Linked DNA regions of Homo sapiens. The protein of the gene in region 3 interacts with the protein of the main gene of each other region in a biochemical or structural test. Each region holds a gene or a part of one and is shown on either strand. Other genes may lie near its edges.

What was found. Proteins that work in one complex are often made in the same cells at the same time.
Region 1: the proteins of SLX9 (region 3) and LTV1 are reported together in a solved structure, tested with the Homo sapiens proteins (one study listed by BioGRID).
Region 2: the proteins of SLX9 (region 3) and RRP12 are reported together in a solved structure, tested with the Homo sapiens proteins (one study listed by BioGRID).

What each region holds. Positions count from the first base shown.
Region 1 is NC_000006.12:143,860,162-143,865,233, forward strand, and holds the end of LTV1 (protein LTV1 homolog), read left to right. Parts: intron 1-264; coding exon 265-392; intron 393-1,942; coding exon 1,943-2,082; intron 2,083-2,682; coding exon 2,683-2,735; intron 2,736-2,924; coding exon 2,925-3,125; intron 3,126-3,255; coding exon 3,256-3,366; 3' UTR 3,367-3,651; downstream 3,652-5,072. Other genes in the region: ZC2HC1B (zinc finger C2HC domain-containing protein 1B), read left to right, coding at 4,379-4,406. UniProt on the Homo sapiens protein: Essential for ribosome biogenesis.
Region 2 is NC_000010.11:97,390,420-97,398,516, reverse strand, and holds part of RRP12 (RRP12-like protein), read left to right. Parts: intron 1-2,215; coding exon 2,216-2,299; intron 2,300-4,756; coding exon 4,757-4,833; intron 4,834-7,672; coding exon 7,673-7,778; intron 7,779-7,977; coding exon 7,978-8,094; intron 8,095-8,097.
Region 3 is NC_000021.9:44,956,423-44,964,935, forward strand, and holds part of SLX9 (ribosome biogenesis protein SLX9 homolog), read left to right. Parts: intron 1-2,275; exon of another isoform or gene 2,276-2,511; intron 2,512-3,677; coding exon 3,678-3,746; intron 3,747-8,513. UniProt on the Homo sapiens protein: May be involved in ribosome biogenesis.

The sequences.
Region 1 (5,072 bases), on a different chromosome or scaffold from region 3:
CCAAGCTGAGTGGAATAATGCCTTTCATTTACATGTTAAATGGAAGCCTATTTTTAGGCTAAATGTAAGTCTTAAAGTACTGAGCAGAAATATCTTCCACATCCTATTGTTGCATTAAATCCCTACTGATATTTTAATGGTAATTGTGATAGTACCTGAATAACTATTGTGTAAGAATAAAGTTAATGTAAAAAAATTTTTAAGTGTGTAGTCTTACTGAGTACATTTGCTTTTCATGGTATCTTTTCTCTGTTTATATTCAAGTTTTATGAGCAATATGATGATGATGAAATTGGAGCTCTGGATAATGCAGAATTGGAAGGTTCTATTCAAGTGGACAGCAATCGCTTACAGGAAGTTTTGAATGACTACTATAAAGAGAAGGCAGAGAAGTATAGTGACTTTTCCTTCCTTGTTTAGCTGTTCTTTTTTTTAAAAAAGAAAAAATTCCAAAGAAAGGTCTATAGTATAACTGAATTGAGGAAAAAATTAACCTAGTCAAAATACATATTGAGAAAATGAAAAAGGAAAAAAGAAAAGGGGAAAAAAAAAGATAGGGCGGAAAAAAGAAAGTGGTACATTTTCCATAAACTTGGGTCATGTATAGCTCATTGTTTTGCCTACATTTTGGTGTTAAATGTTCTGAAGTAGAACGTAATGGGAATATACGAGGAGCCACTTTCTCCGTATCTTTGACTGGAGAAGAGTCATGGTAGAATGTGTATTCGTTTATTAAATTTTTTTTTTTTTTTGAGACGGAGTCTTGCTCTGTTGCCCAGGCTGGAATGCAGTGGTGCGATCTCAGCTCACCTGCAACCTCCGCCTCCCAGGTTCAGGTGATTCTCCTGCCTCAGCCTCCTGAGCAGATGTGATTACAGGTGCACACCACCATGCCCAGCTAATTTTTGTATTTTTAGTAGAGATGGGGTTCCACCATGTTGGCCAGGCTGGTCTCAAACTCTTGACCTCATGTAATATGCCTGCCTCGGTCTCCCAAAGTGCTGGGATTATAGGTCTGAGCCACTGTGCCTGGCCAATTTTTAATTTTTTTTTAACTTTTATTTATTTTGCTTAAAAGTTTTGTTTTGATAGAAGCATGAATATTATTAGGGTGTGAAATATAAGGACAGGCTGGGCGTGGTGGTGTACACCTGTAATCCCAGCTGTTTGGGAGGCTGAGACAGGATCACTTGAACCTGGAAGGCAGAGGTTGCAGTGAGCTGAGATAGCACCACTGCTTCCAGCCTGGGTGACAGGGCGAGACTCTGTCTCAAAAAAAAAAAAAGAAATAAAGGGACACATTCCCCTTGGAAAATAAGATCGTGTTTCTAGTCTTTTGGGCTGAAGAATTATTCCAAGCATACGCTTTTTTCATCTTTCTGAAATGCCAGGTGTTCTGAGAAGTAGGTATTTACATCTCGTGGAAAGACAAGAATTTGTCTCTCCAGCTGGATTAGCGGAACTGACCAGCCAGTTATTTTGGCAAATCAGCATCCACATCAAGGTGACTCTTCTCTGAGAGAAACTGATGAAGTGTTCAAATCAGCTAGAAAGGTCTGATGTTCCATGATCACTATAATATATAGATCCCATAGCAGAAAAAGAAGCTATATAGTTGAGTGAAATATTCGAATACTTTGCAGAGACAGATGAGTTATGCTTTTTTAGGCTTTAAAAACCTGTTTTCTTAGGAAGCTGCCTTGGAAAGACACAGCTAGATGTTACCTTCCTATCAGCCGAGTGAATGTCCAAAACTCACTGGAGGGAAGAGGCAGGGCTGGGTAGAACAGAGTTTGACAGAAAATAACGGATGGGTCACTGGAATATGTGCATTTAAAACATTGGTTTTTCCACAGCTAAAAATTGCAGTTTTAGTGACATAGTATAATAATAGGTCATTTTTCCCCCTCTTGGTCTTCACTTTTAAAAACTCGTCTAAAAGTTGTGTAAAATTGAATACCCTTGAACCCTTGGAGGATCAAGACCTGCCAATGAATGAGCTTGATGAGTCTGAGGAGGAAGAAATGATTACTGTAGTCCTTGAAGAAGCCAAAGAGAAGTGGGATTGTGAATCTATTTGTAGTAAGTATATTCACTTTATGATAGTAATTTTAAAGTATTAAAGTATATCAACTTTAGGCTGGGTGCGGTGCCTCACGCCTGTAGTAATCCCAGCACTTTGGGAGGCCGAGGCGGGTGGGTCACCTGATGTCAGGAGTTCAAGACCAGCCTGGCCAACATGGTGAAACCCCGTGTCTACTAAAAAATACAAAAATTAGCCAGGTATGGTGGCAGGCAACTGTAATCCCAGCTGCTCGAGAGGCTGAGGCAGGAGAATAGCTTGAACCTGGGAGGCAGAGGTTGCAATGAGCCGAGATCATGCCATTGCACTCCAACCTGGGCAACAAGAGCAAAACTCTGTCTAAAAAAAAACATATATCAACTTTGAAAAAATACATATATTTTAATAAGAGTTAGGCTTTTAGGAAATTTGTGAAAAATTATTTGGAAAGAGTAATATTCCAATACTGAGTTGTAAGCAATTTATAAAACATTGATCAGAGACTCCAGTGTTATTTTGCACTATGAAAACACAAGGTCAGAAATATAGTAGGAATTCAGTAATGCTTTGTGGAACTGAAAACATGCTTACTGATACATGACTTTTATTTGTTTGTTTAGGTACATACTCAAATTTATATAACCATCCACAGCTTATCAAGTATCAACCAAAGGTAAGTCCTAGTGTGCTGAGCTATTTGAAGGATGCAGTGCATAAAAAATAGAGTGCACATTTTCGCACAATAACTTTTTATCTTTATGGCTAGAGTGATATTAGAAAAAGCATCAACAGTATGTCATTAATGAGCTATTTTTTAATAGGAATGAGAAGTAACTCTAGTACCATTTTATCTGTATTTCAGCCCAAACAAATTCGAATATCTTCTAAAACAGGAATACCTCTCAATGTCTTACCAAAGAAAGGACTCACAGCAAAGCAAACTGAAAGAATACAGATGATTAATGGCAGTGATCTTCCTAAAGTATCAACTCAGCCACGTTCTAAAAATGAAAGCAAAGAAGATAAAAGAGCAAGAAAGCAAGCTATAAAAGAAGAGCGCAAGGTAAAATATATTTTTCAAATGTGAGATTTACAAAGAGCTGGTGGAGGGGAAATTAGGGGAATTTTGTAAAAGCAGTCTGTATCAGTTTAAAGATGTGAATAATACAAGTATATTCTTGTACTTATAACAGGAACGAAGAGTGGAGAAGAAAGCTAACAAATTAGCATTTAAACTGGAGAAAAGAAGGCAAGAAAAAGAGCTGCTGAACTTGAAGAAGAATGTTGAGGGTCTAAAGCTATAGACAGTGGAGCATACAGGGCAAGGCACTTTATTAGGGGCTCCTCATCTTTGGTTATTGACTAGAAACTTCAGAAAGACAAAACTGTTTGCCATTTTTACTGGCAGATAAGAGGAAAATACAATATTTGTATTATTTTTATACTAGTAAGTGTCCCCTGCCAACCATCTTGTAAATATTGTAATACTTTAATTTTTAATATTATAAGCTTACATTTGCTCTGAAGTAAATGACTTCATGAATGTGAAATGTTTGATAAATTAAAGGAAAATATCTTCATAACGTGAATGGAATTGGTGTATTCATTTATTTGTATGGTTGTCATAGTTGTTTTTTGCAGATGTTTTCAAATATTTCTTTGAATCCTCTCCACGCCTTTTCAGGAATTACATGGTTTAATTTGCTGTAAATAGAAAAGTGGCCTGGTTAAACTCAATTTTGAAATGCTGACTTTATTCTGTTTAGTGTAAGATGAGTTTTTCTGAGAAGGTTCCACTGTTAGGAAGCTAAGTTTTCCCTTGCTGTATACAAAGGACTGTTTCAAAAGTGTGGCAAAACTGAATATTAAGGTTCTTAAGATTCATATTTCCTGTTATATTACTGGATGACTTGCTTTTGGGATTTAGGAACAGTGAAGGCAGGAAACAGAATAGTCAAGGAAATAAGAAAACTTATTTGGCTTCAGTGAGTCCCTAGTTCAAAATCAGAAATATTTATTTCAGTTTAAACTGGGGAGTTTGTCTTTTCAACATCAGTTAATGCTTGGAACCATTCATACTTGATTAAAATACATCGTTGAAAACTTTCCCTGTTTTTGATGAGTTGATTTTTGTTTTAACTGATTTAAACTTTTTCAAGGTTTAGGCAATGACATCATCACAATTGTTGATTATTTGGTAAACTATGACTTCTTGCAACAGATTAGTGGTCCTGGTTTATGTTCTTGACTAGTATGATGTTATCTGGACTGGGCTGTAAAAATCTGTGAACACTGTTGCTCTGAGTTAGGAACAGAATGGCTGGGGCAGAACCATTTTTGGCAGGTGAGCTGCACTTGATATCTAAATTATTAGAAAATGCCTTCATCTGTAATCATTCATTTATGGCTTTTCCAAAGCTGGTAGGTATTAGCTTGTTCTACCATGTGTGATCCGTTTAAATCTAAGTATTGTAGGATTTTTAAAGAGTTGTCAAAACTGATGGCATTAGGTATTCTACCAACATTGGCTAGAAAAAAATCTTGACTGAAGAGCTTGTCATTGCAGAAGTAGGATACTGGAGAGAATGTATTTAAATGCCAACCTGTGAAGTAAAGGGTCAGATGATGGTTTATGTCAATATTGAGAATGTAAGTACTAAAAGGATTGGCCATTTATTTTGATAGCTGTCTCAACTGAAGATTCTCAAAAACAGCAAGAGTCTTAATAGGCATTGGATGTTTCTTTGTCATGTTACTCAAATTCTGTGTTATGAGGTGCTAACTTCACTGTGTTTAAATCCATATATTATATATTTTGCAATTAAGAGAAAAAGACTAGGCCATGAGTCTTGATGAAGCATATTGTGATTTAGGCAGGTTATACTCCAAACTTAAATATTTTAATTTTATTCTGAAGAACAAATTCATGATACTTTAAATGAATTTTCTGATATCTTGGTTCTCTAAAAATCTATAAATGATGATTGGGAACTGAACATAAAAGCTCCAT
Region 2 (8,097 bases), on a different chromosome or scaffold from region 3:
CCTGGCATGGTGGCATGCGCCTGTAATCCCAGCTACTTGGGAAGCTGAGGCACGAGAATCACTTGAACCCTGGAGGCAGAGGTTGCAGCGACCCAAGATCGCACCACTGCGCTTCAGCCTGGGTGACAGAACGAGACTCTGTCTCAAAAAAAAAAAAAAAAAAGGCCGGGCGCGGTGGCTCACGCCTGTAATCCCAGCACTTTGGGAGGCCGAGGCGGGTGGATCATGAGGTCAGGAGATCGAGACCATCCTGGCTAACAAGGTGAAACCCCGTCTCTACTAAAAATACAAAAAATTAGCCGGGCGCGGTGGCGGGCGCCTGTAGTCCCAGCTACTCGGGAGGCTGAGGCAGGAGAATGGCGTGAACCCGGGAAGCGGAGCTTGCAGTGAGCCGAGATTGCGCCACTGCAGTCCGCAGTCCGGCCTGGGCAACAGAGCGAGACTCCATCTCAAAAAAAAAAAAAAAAAAAAAAAAAATACGTATATATATATACATATATATATATATATGTATATATATATACGTATTTTTTTTTACCCAATTTTGTTATTTAGGTTTACCAAAATGTGATTAGTTTCTTTTCTTTTCTTTTCTTTTTTTTCAGACAGAGTCTCACTTTGTCACCCAGGTTAGAGTGCAGTGGCTGATCAGCCTTCCAATTCCCAAGTAGCTGGGACTACAGGGGAGTGCTACCATACCAAGCTAATTTTTGTATTTTTTGTAGAGATGGGGTTTGCCATATTGCCCAGATTGGTCTTGAACTCCTGGGCTCAAGGGATCTGCCCACCTGAGCCTCCCAAAGTGTTGGGATTACTGGTGTGAGCCATTGTGCCCTGCTTGATTAGTTTATTTTTTATCCACTGTTCTGCAACTTTTTCCCTACTGAACGATATTTATAAGTTAATATATAGTTGTTCTCATTCTTTTGAATAATGCACTATTTAAATTTTTCATTATTATATAATGATACAGTCAGGTCTCTATATTTGCGGGTTCTGCACCTGCAGATTCAACCAAGCATGGATTGAAAAATCTTTTTAAAATAATAATAATATACCAGGCGAGGTGGCTCACGCCTGTAATCCTAGCACTTTGGGAGGCCGAGGCGGGCAGATCACTTGAGGTCAGAAGTTCAAAACCAACCTGGCCAGCATGGTGAAACTCCATCCCTACTAAAAGTACAAAAAATTAGCCTAGCGTAGTGGCACATGCCTGTAATCCCAGCTACTCAGGAGGCTGAGGCAGGAGAATCGCTTGAACCCGGGAGGTGGAAGCTGCGGTTAGCAGAGAGTGCGCCACTGCATTCCACCCTGGGTGACAGAGTGAGACTCTGTCTCAAAAACAACAACAACAACAACAACAACAAAAATACAGTATAACAACTATTTATATAGCATTTACATTGTGTTAGGTGTTACCAGTAATCTAGAGATGATTTAAAGTATATGGGAGGCCAGGCATGGTGGCTTATGCCTGTAATCTCAGCACTTTGGGAGGCTAAGGAGGGCAGATCACTTGAGGCCAGGAGTTCAAAACCAGCTTGGTCAACATGGTAAAACCCCATCTCTACTAAAAATACAGAAATTAGCTGGGCATGGTGGTGCACACCTGTAATCCCAGCTACTTGGGAGGCTGAGGCAGGAGAATTGCTTGAACCCAGAGGCAGAGGTTGCAGTGAGCTGAGATCATGCCACTGCACTCTTGCCTAGCTAACAGTGAGACTCTATCTCAAAAAAAATAAATAAAGTATATGGGAAGATGTATATAGGTTATACACAAATACTACACCATTTTTTATAAGGGACCTGAGCATCCTCGGATTTTGGTATCTTTAGGGGTCCTGGAACCAATCCCCCCCTCGATAACTGCAGTACATTAGAGACAACTACAGTACATTATTAATCTCCTGTTGATGGCTTCTTGACCATTCCAATTTGTTGCTGCCATGAACATCCTTGTACATAAATATTTGCACACTCATCTCATGCAGGTATTTCTAGAAGGTTAGTACCTCATGGTGGAATTTTAGCAAGCATTTTCTGAGTCTTGTTATTTGCTGGGCCCCCTGGTATGGACCTAGGCCCTGAATGTTGCCTGTCTTGTCTGTCTCTGGGCTTTAACCAGAGATTAATCTGTGAAGGAGCAAGGAAAGGAGGTTCCCCTGGGGTGGGGTTAGGTCTAAAATAGTCACAGTGCTTTCTCCCTCCTGTGCAGATCTGTGCTGTTCTGGCTGCTGTCACTGAGGTGATTCGCTCCCAGGGAGGGAAGGAGACGGAGACTGAGTACTTCGCTGCTCTGGTGAGTGGGTGCCACTGGAGGGTGGGTGTTCAGAGCAGCAGGTTATGCAAGATTTAGCGAGAAGATGAGTGCCCCTGGCATGTGGGGGTAGAGAAGGACAACCTTGACCAGGTGAAAGTGCTTCAGTTATTCTCAGGTGGCTTAGGAAGGCTGGTGGTATTTGCTACCTTTTAATTTTCTCTTTTCTTTTCTTTCTTTCTTTGTTTCTTTTTTTTAAAGAGACAGGGTCTCACTATGTTGTCCAGGCTGGTTTCAAATTCCTGGGCTCAAACCGTCTTGTCATCTTGCGGTGGCCTCCCAAATTGTTGGGATTACAGGCATGAGCCACTGCAACTGGCTACTTATTACTTTTTTTTTTTTTTTTTTTGAGGCGGAGTCTCACACTGTCGCCCAGGCTGGAGTGCAATGGCATGTTCTCAACTTATTGCAACCTCTGCCTCCTGGGTTCATGTGATTCTCCTGCCTCAGCCTCCCGAGTAGCTGGGATTACAGGTGCACACCACCATACCCGGCTTATTTTTTGTATTTTTTAGTAGAGAAGAGGTTTTACTATGTTGGCCAGACTTGTCTCGAACTCCTGACCTCGTGATCTGCCTGCCTCAGCCTCCCAAAGTGCTGGGATTATAGGCCTGAGCCACCAGGCCTGGTCTACTTTTTTTTTTTTTTGAAACAGAGTCTCACTCCGTTGCCCAAGTTGGACTGCAGTGGCACGATCCCAGTTCACTGCAACCTCTGTCTCATGGTATCAAGCAATTCTCATGCCTCAGCCTCCTGAGTACCTGGGATTACAGGCGTGCGCCACCACACCTGGCTGATTTTTGTATTTTTAGTAGAGACAGGGTTTCACCATGTTGGCCCGGCTGGTCTCGAACTCGCAACCTCAGGTGATCCCCCCTACCTCAGCCTCCCAAAGTGCTGGAATTACAGGTGTGAGCCACCATGGCTGGCCTACTTATTACATTAAATAAATAAATATATTTGTGTATGTATGTATGTGTGTGTGTGTGTGTATATGTGTATATATATACTTTTTATTTTGTTTTTGGGTTTTTTTGTTGTTGTTTGTTTTGTTTTGGAGACAGGGTCTCACTTTGTTGCCCAGGCTGGAGTGCAGTGGTGTGATCATGGCTCACTGCAACCTCCACCTCCTGTGTTCAAGTGATGATCGTGCCTTAGCCTCCTGAGTAGTTGGAATTACAGGCGCCTGCCACCATGCCCAGCTAATTTTTGTATTTTTAGTAGAGACAGAGTTTCGTCATGTCGCCCAAGCTTGTCTTGAGCTCCTGAGCTGAATCAGTTCTCCCACTTTGGCCTCCCAAAGTGCTGGGATTACAGGCATGAGCCACCATGCCCAGCCTGGTTATTACATTTTTAAAGAATTGTTAAAACACACACAAAAAGAACATACAACAGAGACCAAGTGTGCATGCAAAGCCGAAAATATTTACTATCTGGTCCTTCGTAGAAAAAGTTTGCCAACCTCTGCTCTAGAATAATGAAATAAATTAGATGGCAGTATATGGTGTTTGGCTGGGTGTGGTGGCTCACGCCTTTAATCCTAGGACTTTGGGAGGCCAAGATCGGAGGAGTGCTTGAGGCTAGGAGTTCGACACCAGCCTGTGCAATATAGTGGGACCCTGTCTCTACAAAAAATAAAATAATTAGCCAAGCTTTGTGGCGCATGCCTGTAGTTCTAGCTGCTTGGGAAGTTGATGTGGGAGGATCTCTTGAGCTTTGAAGTTCAAGGTTACAGTGAGCTATGATTATACCACTGCACTCCAACCTGGGAGACCCTGTCTCTCAAAAAAACTATCTATCTATCTCTGTATATATATGCACATAAACATATATATAGTTTATTTATTTATTTTTTTTGAGACGGAGTCTCACTCTGTCACCCAGACTGGAGTGCAGTGGCACGATCTCAGCTCATTGCAAGCTCTGCCTCCTGGGTTCACGCCATTCTCCTGCCTCAGCCTCCCGAGTAGCTGGGACTACAGGCGCCCGCCACCATGCCTGGCTAATTTTTTGTATTTTTTAGTAGAGACGGTGTTTCACCGTGTTAGCCAGGATGGTCTCGGTCTCCTGACCTCGTGATCTGCCCTCCTCGGCCTCCCAAAGTGCTGGGATTACAGGCGTGAGCCACCACGCCCAGCCACATATATATAGTTTTAATTATGTGTCAGGCAGTATTTTATATATATTAATTCAATTAAACCTCACAACAACGTATAAGGTATGTAGCATTAGTATCCCTACTTTACAAATGAAGAAACTGAGTCACAGATAGGTTAAATTACTAGCCCAAAACCACACAATGCCAGAGTCAGGATCTGAACCTCTGATACCGTGGTTCTCAGTCACAACTGTTCTGCTGGGCACATGTTCCCCCACTCTCTTTCCTGTTTGCTCAGTGTAAGTTTTTATCCATTCAAACCCCCTCAATCTGGCCCTCAGATGACAACAATGGAAGCAGTGGAGTCCCCGGAGTCCCTGGCCGCCGTTGCTTACCTGCTGAACCTTGTCCTGAAGCGGTGAGTTCTGCCTCCTGTTTGAACCCCAAGGCTTTTTGTGGAGGGGAGAAGGGAATGTGGACAGGAGAAACAGGATCAGGGAATTGTTATTTAAAAAGATACTTGCTCTTCATGAACATTGTCTAGAGGCATGCAGAATGGGCCAGCATGTGACATACCGTCGTAGGCCTCTAGTGAGAAACTCTAACTAAACTAGGCTGTCCTGAACCCCTGGTAATAGAATCATTTACCTTTATGCCAAGAAGGTTGGGAAAGCACCAAAATCTTCACGTGGTGTGTGTCCAGGCAGACATTCAGGAGCTCGTGCTGTGAGATCTAAAGTTGTTATTTGATAGTCCAAAACAAAAGGCATGTCTATAGGGCCTGCAGTGCTTCCCTGGTTCCATGTGTGCTCAGTGTGTTCATGACAGAATCAAGTGTGCTTTCCTTATTGAGGAGCAGAAAATCATTGTGAAAGTGTTGAAGGCAAAAGCAGAGTCAGAAAGCTCTATTGAAAATGAAACTTTTTTGGCCTGGTGCGGTGGTTCACACCTATAATCCCAGCACTTTGGGTGGCCGAGGCAGGCAGATCAAGAGGTCAGGAGATCGAGACCATCCTGGCCAACATGGTGAAACCCCGCCTCTACTAAAAATATAAAAATTAGCTGGGTAGGCTACATGCTGTGGCTCACGCCTGTAATCCCAGCACTTTGGGAGGCTGAGGTGGGCAGATCGCCTGTAATCCCAGCACTTTGGGAGGCTGAGGTGGGCAGATCACCTGAGGTCAGGAGTTCGAGACCAAACTGGCCAACATGGTGAAACCCCGTCCCTACTAAAAACACAAAAATTAGCTGGGCATGGTGGCAGGTGCCTGTAATTCAGCTACTCGGGAGGCTGAGGCAGGAGAATTGCTTGAACCCAGTAGGCAGAGGTAGCAGTGAGCTGAGATCATGCCATTGCACTTACAGCCCTGTCAACAGTGCAAGACTCCGTCTCAAAAAAAAAAAAATAGAAAGAAAATGAAATTTGTTTTGAGTAATAAAAATTAAAAGTCATGGCTGGACGCAGTGGCTCATACCTGTAATCCCAGCACTTTTGGAGGCTGAGGCAGGAGGATTGCTTGCGGCCAGGAGTTGGAGACCAGCCTGGCCAACATGGTGAAACCCGATCTCTACTAAAAATACAAAATTAGCCAGGTGTAGTGGTACATGCCTGTAATCCCAGCTACTTGGGAGGCTGAGGCAGGAGAATCACTTGAACACAGAATGTGGAGGTTGCATTGAGCCAAGATCAAGCCACTGCAGTCCAGCCTGGGCAACAGAGTGAGACTCCATCTCAATAAATAAATAAGTAATAAAGTAAAAAATAAAAAACCTTGATTCTTTAAGATGAAAAAGTTCTTGAGATTGGTTGCACAACAATGTGAGTATACTTGGCTGGGTGTGGTGACACATACCTATAATCCCAGCACTTTGGGAGGCTGAGGCAGGTGGACTGTTGAGCCCAGGAGTTCGAAACCAGCCTGGGCAACATGGCAAAACCTTGTCTCTACAAAAAAATACAAAAATGAGCTAGGCGTGGTGGCATGCACCTGTAGTCCCAACTACTTGGGAGGTAGAGGTTGCAGTGAGCCTAATTGTGCCACTACACTCCAGCTTGGGTGACGAGTGAGACCCTGTCTCCAAAAAAAGAAAAAAAAAAAACCCACAACATGAATATACTTAACAGTACTGAATGATATACCGAAAAATATCGTTGAAATGGTGTGTTGTTTTTTTCCTTTTTGAGACAGAGTCTCGCTCTGTTGCCCAGGCTGGAGTGCAGTGGCGCCACCTCCTCCCACTGCAACTCCACCTCCTGGGTTCACACCGTTCTCGTGCCTCAGCCTGTCAAGTAGCTGGGACTACAGGCGCCCGCCACCACGTCTGGCTAATTGTTTGTATTTTTAGTAGAGACCGGGTTTCACTGTGTTAGCCAGGATGGTCTCGATCTCCTGACCTCATGATCCACCCGCCTCGGCCTCCCAAACTGCTGGGATTACAGGCGTGAGCCACTGCGTCCGGCCGAAATGATGTTTTATCTTATGTGTATTTTACCACAATTAGAAATTTATTTATTTATTTATTTATTTTTGAGACAGAGTTTCGCTCTTGTTGCCCAGGCTAGAGTGCAATGGTGCAATCTCAGCTCACCACACCCTCCACCTCCCGGGTTCAAGTGATTCTCCTGCCTTGGCCTCCCAAGTAGCTGGGATTACAGGCGGGCGCCATCACGCCCAGCTAATTTTGTATTTTTAGTAGATACAGGGTTTCTCCATGTTTGTCAGGCTGGTCTCAAACTCCCGACCTCAGGTTATCTGCCCACCTTGGCCTCCCATAGTGCTGGGATTACAGGCGTGAGCCACCATGCCTGGCCAGAAATTTTAAAATACAATTTAAAAGATACTTGTATATCAGGTGGCATTCTACAACATAAGGTCCTGGGTGACTGGGTCATTATACCAGGGAGTGTGAGTGTTGGCCCCCAGAAGGGGCATTCCTGGAGCAGTGAGTGGCAGAAGGGAGGGAAGGAGTAGTTGGCCCCAGGCTTTCTGGAGATGTGAACTGCCAGGGGAGGTGGAGAGAGGATTGGTGTCCTGAGTTTAGGAGTGGGTAGTGGGAAGGTGAGAGAGGCAGGGATCCCGGGTGGAAAGCACACTGAGCTGGCTGATAAGGTGGGTGCCTATTCTGACTTTGTTGCTCACTTTCTGAGTGACTGTGCCACCAGCGCCCCTTGCCCTGTCCTCCTTAGTACCACGAGGGGCTGCACCAGCTGCTCTTCAGGGACCCTCTGGGGTGACCATCTCTGTTCTTTCCCACAGTGTTCCCAGCCCTGTGCTTATTAAGAAGTTCTCTGATACCTCCAAAGCCTTCATGGATATCATGTCAGCTCAGGCCAGCAGCGGCTCCACCTCTGTCCTCCGATGGGTTAGTGTCTGGGGTTTAGTTTCTCATCTGGCGACTCCCAGAGCCTGTCTGATTTGGTGATGCTTAGATGTTCCCTGAGAGGGGTTTAGGCACCCTGGGGACCTCAGACAGATGCGATTTTCTGGAGTCAGTGAGAACCTGGGCTCTTTTCCCTCCTGGCCGAGGCTGGTGGCACTGAGGGACTCTGACTTTCTTCCAGGTCCTTTCCTGCCTGGCCACCCTTCTGCGGAAGCAAGACCTGGAGGCCTGGGGCTACCCCGTGACCCTTCAGGTGTACCATGGGCTGCTGAGCTTCACGGTGCATCCCAAGCCCAAGGTG
Region 3 (8,513 bases):
GATGCATTTCAGCTTGCATTCACCCAGAAGGCGTGGCGAGAAGAACCTCGGCACCACGAGATGCTGCTGGCATGTGCCGCTTCAGCTGGTGACCTGGGTGGTGTTGGCAGCATCTGAGTGGCTCTGTAGGCCGCAGCATCTCCCGGCACCCGAGCCCGAGATGAAGCAGCACGTGCCAGCAGCATCGCGTAGTGTGTTCTGTCCTGAGCCTCATGCAGATCTTTGTGGAGTGAGAATCAAGGCTTGTTGATGGCGTGCACGGAAAAGCCGGTCTCATGCTGATTTTCCTTAGGGTCCATCAGAACACGTGCCCCGTGAACCGTGTCACCCCACGGCCCAACTCTGGTGAGCCTGGTTCTGTGTCTGCTGACCTGGTGAGGGCTGGGGACCAGGTGAGTTGCCTGCGGCACAGGCGTGCTGTGTAGCTGCCATGTGTGGCTTCCTCCACTGAGGCTGGTTTACCGCGTCTGTTCCCGGGGCCCCTTTGTTAGAGCGCAAGAGCCCAGGCAGCACCGTGGCAGCTGGGAAGGCTGTGGTTCTGGCGAGGCGGTTGCCTTGCCCAGTGTACCTGGAATTGCAGCTCCAGAGCACGGGCCCTGGCTCCTGCGCGGCAGCGTCTCACCTTCCCTTTTCTTGTCAGGGTTTTTAGGCAGCCTGTACCTGCGTGCACCCATCCCTCTCTCTGTGCGGGGCCATTCAGCTCATGCTGCAGGTTTTTGCCGGGCCGGCCGGCGTTCCAGGGACCAGAGCCACCCCCAGAGCTCTGTGATGAGTCAGCTCAGGGCAGGTTTCTAGTCACTCCCCAAGGGCAGGGCTGAGGCGGGGTCTTCCAGAGTCAAGGGTTAGAGGGGCTGTTCCTTGAACGGCCCTTGAGTCCTCCTCAGAGTGCCTCCCACTGGGCCAGAGGGGCTGTCCCACACGGTCAGTCCCCACACGCTGCTCGTGAGCCCGGTGCCTCTATGCAGATCGCTCCGTGGCAGCTGCATCCTGGGCTCCTGAAGACTCAGGCAAGGGCACGGCTTCTCCTCATCCTCCTCCTCTTCATCTCCACCATCCATCTGCCCTGTGCCTTGCAGTCCAGCTCAGATACAGGCGCTGTGGCAGCCAGGAGCACCCTGGATACCACCGGGTCCCAGGACCCAGATCGCAGGAGCCACCTCATGCCCTGCGGCCTTGTCTTTCACCCTTTGGGCTTGTTCACTGCCAGTAGCAACAGGTGGCCCCAGAGGGTTCCACCGAGTGTGAGGGGGAGTGGATGGCACCTGCAGCATGTTCCCCCACAGGGAGGCCTGGGCTCTGTCTTGGGGGGGTCCTGTCTCGGTTTTGTGGGGAATGAGGGTATGAGCACCTCGTCTAGCCTTGCCTCAGCCACTGGCTGGGGTTCTGTGAGGTTCAGTTTAATGGGGACTTGCCCGTCTCCTGACACCTTTGAGCTGTGGACTGAGCGGGCCAGAAGGAGTGGCAGTGTGTGAGCCGCCCGTGCAGCAGGTGGCCTAGGATGTGAAGCAGACAGGGCACAGAGGAAGAAGCCTGTCTGCCTAGAGCGGGAAGCCGAGGTCGCAGCCGCCTCTGCCCTTCTGAGTGTGCACCCTTCTGTAGCCTCAGCTCGGCTGGCCGGCGATTGTATGAAGTCGTTTTTACTGTCAGCTCTGGCTTGGTATTCCTGGTGCCCACTCGGACTTCAGGCCCTGTGTGAGGAGCTCGGGCTCGGCGGATGACCTGCCTCAGGTGTGGCCCCTGCTGCCGTCACTTTGTCACTAATCAGACGTGTTTGGTGACCTTCCCCTCCCCATAGCCACTGGGGCTGTAGTGCTGGTGCTGCTGGGATCTGGGTTTGGGGCGAGGCCCAGGACAGTAGCAGCTCCCGACACCCTTGCTTGAGGCCCAGCATCTGCACTCCCAGCCCGGCCCTCCTCCAAGCTGGCATTTCTGCTGCACCCACGGGACGCTCCTGTGCTTCCGCAGCACCGGCGAGAGCTGTGGTGTGCTGGCCTTGTCGTAGGTAAGTTTAGAAACCGGAGCAGCTCGAGCGGACTTCACACTGTCCCCACCACAGGGTGGGGTGCGCCCACCTGCCCTGTCCATGTGGCCTTGGGCCTGCGGGGGAGAGGGAATCAGGACCCACAGGGCGAGCCCCCTCCGTAGCCCGCGGCACCGACTGGATCTCAGTGAACACCCGTCAGCCCATCCAGAGGCTAGAAGGGGGAGCAGGCGTGAACCTGTGCCGGAGCACTTCAGCAAGGGCGCCTTGGGCCCGGAAAGCGGCGGGAGCTGGGGGTCGTGGGGCCGCCGCCAGCAGTTCCAGGCGGCCTCTGCTCCAGCTGCAGCATTCCAAGCCCTCTCCTCCTGCAGGAGCAGCGTGTTTGGTTCCTGTTGTCCTGGTGCCATGGCAATGGGGCTGGGGAGCTCCCTGGGGCCAGAGCCGGGAAGGATCACTGTGCTGTGTTCCTGACCTGGCCTGCGCCCAGGCCTCGTTTTCTTCATTCCAACACAACACAGGTCACTGTTCGGGTCAGTTTCCACTGGTCTTAGATTCATTTTTCTTTTGAAACAATTTCAAAACTACAGAAAAGCTGCAAAATCAGCCCCTCCCCTTTGTGGTCGGGAGGGAGAGGTTGGGATGCTATGGAGGAAAGTAGGTCAACCCAGGCACACCAGGAAGCTGTGGGAGGGGATTAAATCCTGCGGGAGCCCTGGGCCTTGGAGGTTTCACACCGGCTCCTGAAGTGAAGTCTGAAATGCAGAGCGCAGCGACTGCCTTTCTCCAGGCAGGGCTTGCTTCTGCTTTGTTTTTCATTAGACATGGTGGATTTGTTGGACAAGCCAGGAAGGTCTGCATGAATTAAAAGAGATACTGGGAGATGTGTTCTGGGGAGAATGCAGCCGAGGCTGAACCGTCTCGGGAAATCAGTTAAGGCCGAGGAAATGGGGGTGCCCTTGAGTCCACTCTGTTTCAGAGCAAACTGGAGTCAGAGACGCAGCACCCAGTGCCCTCTCCACCTGTCCCCACCTGCACGGCCCTGCAGGCTCATCCCACCCCTGCCCCTGTCCCCCCAGCAAATGAGCCTCCTTTCCCCGCCCACCGGGCAGGTGGCTGGGCTCCGCGTGGACCAAGCACAGGGGCACCTGTGGAGTTCACTTTTGGAGGCTCCCTGAGAGGGCCGCTTTGTGGGGTCCAGGGATGAAGCCTCTGGTCACCGAGCACATTGTCGGGCCTGGCAGGGGGCAGGGAGCACGTACGTCGCTGGGCCTGACGTGACCACACAGGATCTTGGGGATGTCCCCCTAAGGGCCTCTGTCCTGTTCGTGGCCCCCTTCATGAGCCGTCGGGCATTCCTGCATGGCTTCACTGCAATGACTGCCCTGACAGTCATTCGGGGCATGAGTGGGGAGGAGGCCTCCTTGTTGGGACACCTGCTTTCCGGGGCAGGCTGGGGTGAGTGGCCAGGCCATCACTGCGGGGGGACGCTGCTGAGAGAGCCTCCTGAGGCCGGGCCGAGGCATGCTGCAGGTGCCCCTGGTGCTGTCCAGAGCCGGGAGTCTGAGAGGCTGGCACAGGCCAGACCAGTTGCAGTGACTGTGGCAGCTCTGCAGTCAGGACCCGCCCCAGCCCATTCTCAGGTCATGGGAGTGCCACCTGGACACGTTTTGCTCACTCCCGTGTTCTCTTTCCTCAGGTGCAGAGGCCAAGACCGTTTTGCCCAAGAAGGAGAAAATGAAGCTGAGGCGTGAGCAATGGTTGCAGAGTAAGTCCATGCCTGCGTCTTGAGGCAGCTGCCGGCCCAAGTCCCATCCCGTGGGCCCTCCTATTCCTACAGCCTCACATCTGGCCTTCTACATCAGCCACACTCCCCGAGGAGTGCCCAAGGGGATCACCCAAGACACTTCAGAGGCTGCTGTGGGGGCCGAAGGACAGTGGAGGCACAGAGAGGTTGGCCATGAAGACTTGGCAGCATGGCCAAGCTGGTCTGGCCTGTTGTGGATGGCACTGCCACCCCGTCCGTGTGGGCACCTGCAGAGCTGGGCTGCCTCCCTTTGGAGGACGGCCTTGGGAAGCTGCTGCTCTCGGCTCCTTGTTTGTAAAAATTACCTATTTTTGTTCCCCACCGTGAAATTTTTTATTGTGGAAGTAACCTGTGCTCGTGGAGTTTTTATGGTTCAGAAGTGCCTGCAGTGGTATGTGAAATCCTTCCAGGCCTTGCCCGCGGTGAAAACAGTGTCTGCGCATAGCGGCGTGGGTGTGGGCAGGGCCCCTGGTGTCCCCAGACCCTTTCAGGCCTGTGGCTCCCTCTTTTCTGAGGTCAGCCTTGCCACGTGCTCCCAGCTGCACGTCTCCGCAGGCTGAAAGCCACACTTCCCACTCAGGTTGTTTTGGAGTATCTCCTTATTTTTCGTGATGCTGGATATTTGCCAGTGTTTTTCTAAGATTGTTTCTCGTCAAAATTATTTTGTATTTTTCGGTTATCTTTTTAGTGTGATTCTGCTGACTTTGTGAAATTAATTTGGAATATTTTCTTTTTTATGTTATCTGCTTTATTTTTTCCTTGGAGGTTTTAAAGAAAATGTATGTTTTTCAGAGGTAGGACCTAGAAAACTTTGTCAGTTTCTTTTGTGATTATTAGTTTTATGGTTTCTATCCCTTTTTGGATATTTCTTAGGGAAATGATTCATTCCTCCATTTTCTTTTTCACAGTTCCTAGCATAGCTGTGAAAGTGGATTTGGACGGGCTACTGGACTGTGGCCATTTGGACCCTGATTTTCTAGGCTGTAATTCTTTGATGATGTGTAAATTTTATTCCATGGCACTTGGTCCTTTTTTTTTGTTTTTTCACAACTTGAGTCAATTTTGGCCACTCATAAAATGATCGAATTTGTCTGAGGATGGTGTCTCATGCCTGTAATCCCAGCACTTTGGAAGGTTGAGATGGAAGGATCACCTACGCCCAGGAGTTTCAGACTAGCCTGGGCAATATAGCGAGACCTTGTCTCTACAAAAAATGTAAAAATTAGTCAGATTAGGTGGTGTATGCCTCTGAGCCTCTAGTCCTAGCGACTTAGGAGGCTGAGGTAGGAAGATCGCTTCAACCCAGGAGTTTGAGGCTGCAGTGAACCGTAATTGCACTAGTGCACTCCAGCCTGGGTGACAGAGTGGGTCCTTGTCTCTAAATAATGTTAATGATCAAATTTAGTCAGATCTCAATCTTCATATGTTAGTTGCCTTCTTATTAAATATTCTGTTTTCTTTATCGTTCTTTATTTGTATCTCCACCTTCATTTCTGATTAAATTAAGAAGTTTTGTCTCTTCCATTTAATAATTAATGTATTTAATAACCAATTCTACTCTTTTGTCTTCAAAATTATTTGTTTTTATTTTGATCACTCCCGTTTTAGCTTTCTTTGGGTTTCAGTTACTCTGCTTATCTGTTTGTATATGTTTTGTTCAGGAGTGAAAGGCTGTAAGTTATCTCTAAATACAGCTTTAGCTACATTTCCCAAGTTACTTTTACTTTGTATTTTATTATGAAAAATTTTATTTAGGAAAGTGGGAAGAATTTTATAGGGAATACCCTGTACCCACCACACAGATTTTACAATCTTTATTACATAACCGTTCATCTAGCAGTTTCTGTCCATCTACCAACATGGGTTTTTAAAAATGCGTTTCAAAGTAAATGGCAGACATCAGTACACTCCACCCCAAATAATTCTGCTAGAGTTCATGGTTCTTTTTTTTTCTTTTTCTTTTGAAGATTGTATTTACATAAAATGAAATGCAAATCTAAAGTGTGCCATTCAATGATTGCTGACAAATGTTGTAGACACCTGTGCAGCTGAAATCCTGTTCAGGTTATGGACCATCACCACCATTCCCCGACAGTCACGCACCCCCCCAGTCAATTACCTCTCCCACTGGCCCCAGAGGTAACAACTGCTGTGTCACCCTTTGTCGTCCACAGTTGAGCTTTTCTTGCCTTAGACTCTGTATAAATGGAATCATGTAGGATGCACTCTTTCTGCATCTGGCTGCTTTTGCTCAGCGTAATGGTTTTGAAACCCATCCAGGCTGCATGTAGCAGCAGTCCATGCCTTTTGATTGCTGAGAAGTATTTCATTGTATGAATACACCATTTGTTACTCACTTTCCTGCTGATGGGCACCTGGGCTTTTTTCCATTTTTAGCTACTGTGAATAAGGCTGCTCTGAACATTCTTTACAAGTCTTTTTGTGGACATGTTTTCGTTTCTCTTGGGTAAGTGCTGAGGAATGGAATGCTGGGTCATAGGGTAGGTGTATGTTTAGTTTTATAAGCAGCTGCCAGACGCTTTTCTAGAGTGGTTGTACACTCACACTCCCACCAGAGCCTGTGAGAGTTCTCCTGGCCCTCAGCTTTGCCAACACATGGCCTGCCGTCTCCTCAGCCTCGGCCGTCTGGTAATCATGAAATGGTATCTCACGGTGGTACTCATTTCCGTTGCCACCAAAAGAGCATTTACATGTGCTTACTGTCCATTTGTGTTTCAGCGTCAGTGAAATTCATTTTTCATGAGGCTTTTTGTCTTTTTATTATTGAGCTCTAAGAGTTCTTTGTCCTAGAGTCCAGTCTTTGGTTGGATATGTGTTTTACAGATGTTTTTCCCAGACTGTGACTTGCCTGTTCATTTTCTTTCTTTTTTTTTTTTTTTGAGATAGAGTCTTGCTCTGTCGCCAGGCTGGAGTGCAGTGGTGCGATCTTGGCTCACTGCAAGCAACACCTCCTGGGTTCAAGCGATTCTTCTGCCTCAGCCTTCTGAGTAGCCGGGACTACAGGCACCCGCCACCGTGCCCGGCTAATTTTTTTGTATTTTTAGTAGAGATGGGGTTTCACCGTGTTAGCAGGATGGTCTCGATCTCTTGACCTCGTGATCCGCCCGCCTTGGCCTCCCAAAGTGCTCGGATTACAGGCGTGAGAACTTTTTTTTTTTTTTTAAATAAACGAGAGTTTAATTTTGAGAAGTTTAATTTATATTAGTTATTGTGTGTGTGTATATGTATGTGTGTGTGTCCTATTTAAGAAAACTTTGCCTAATCCCAAGTCATGAAGATATTATTCCTGTTTTCTTCTAAAAACTTTATAGTTTGAGCTTTCATATTGGTTTTTTTTTTCTATCTTGAATTGTTTGTCTATGTGGTGTTAGTGGTTAAGTTCCTTTTTTCCCCCTAATATGGATATTCAGCTGTTCCAGCACCATTTGTTATAAGTACTTTTCTTTCCTTATTGGATTGTTTTGTTGCCTTTGTGAAAAATCAGAAAGTCTCATAAGTGTGGATCTGTTTCTAGGCTGTCTTCTGTTCCATTGATCTATTTGTTGTACCTTAGCAAAAACCAGACTGTCTTGATTACCATAGCTTTAGGATTAATCTGGAAGTCAGATAACATAAGTCCTTTTTGTTGGTTCGTCTGTCTTGAGGTTGTTTTGGATATTCTAAGTCCTTGGCATTTCCATATAAATTATCATTAGCTTGTCTATTTCTTTAAAAACAACAACAAAAACCTAGTGGGGTTATGATTGGGATTTCATTGAATCTATAGATCAGTTCAGAATTACCATCTTAGCAAAGCAGATCTTCAAATTCATGAACATAGTATATCTCACCATTTAAATTTCATCATCAATGTTATTCAGTTTTAGTGTAGAGATCTTACATCTTATAATAAGCTTATTGCTAAGTATTTTATAGTTTTTTATGCTGTCATAAATGCAGTTTTTTCTCAGCTCTCTGCTAGTATGTTAAAATACAATTGGTTTTTTAAAATACTAATCTTGTATCCTATGAATTTACTAATATCATGCATTAGGTCTGGTAGTCATTTTGTAGATTCCTTAGGATCTTTAGAAATGCATGTTTTCTGTATGTGTGGATTTTTTCCCTCAATTTGCTTTTTTTCCCCAATATGTGTTGAAATTTCCCCTGTGGATCTGCACGCGCCACCCCACCTTGCCTTTATGAGGACAAGCTTGCAAAGTTTGTCCTTGCTGTTCCTCCCGTTGCAGGGCCCTCCCACTCCTGGAGGCCTCCCCCGGTCACTCTCCATCCCTTGCTTTGCTTTGTTTTGTCCACATACCTCCCCAGTGCCCAGGTAGCGCCTCTATGCTCCACCACACAGCCTGTGCCCCAGCCGTGCCGTGGACAGTGGCTCCCCATGCCCTGTGGGCGGGAGGGTGGGTAGTTGGAACCACACACATGTCCCACTTGACTTTCCCAACCCTCAGTTGTCCTCCAAGGCGGCTGGGCCAGTTCACACCCACCCATCAGCTCCCTCCGTCCTCGAACACTCGATATTATGAAACATTTAAAAATTTGCCAGTCTATGAGGTGCAACATTTCCTTGATTTCTAATCCAGTCGAGTGGCTCCTGCTGTATTTTTTGGCCTTTGATTCCTCTTTGTTTTTAGTATTTAATTCATACATACTGATTTTTAGGAACAGTGTGAGAGGGACTCTGACTCTTTCCCCAGGAGGACCCCAGTT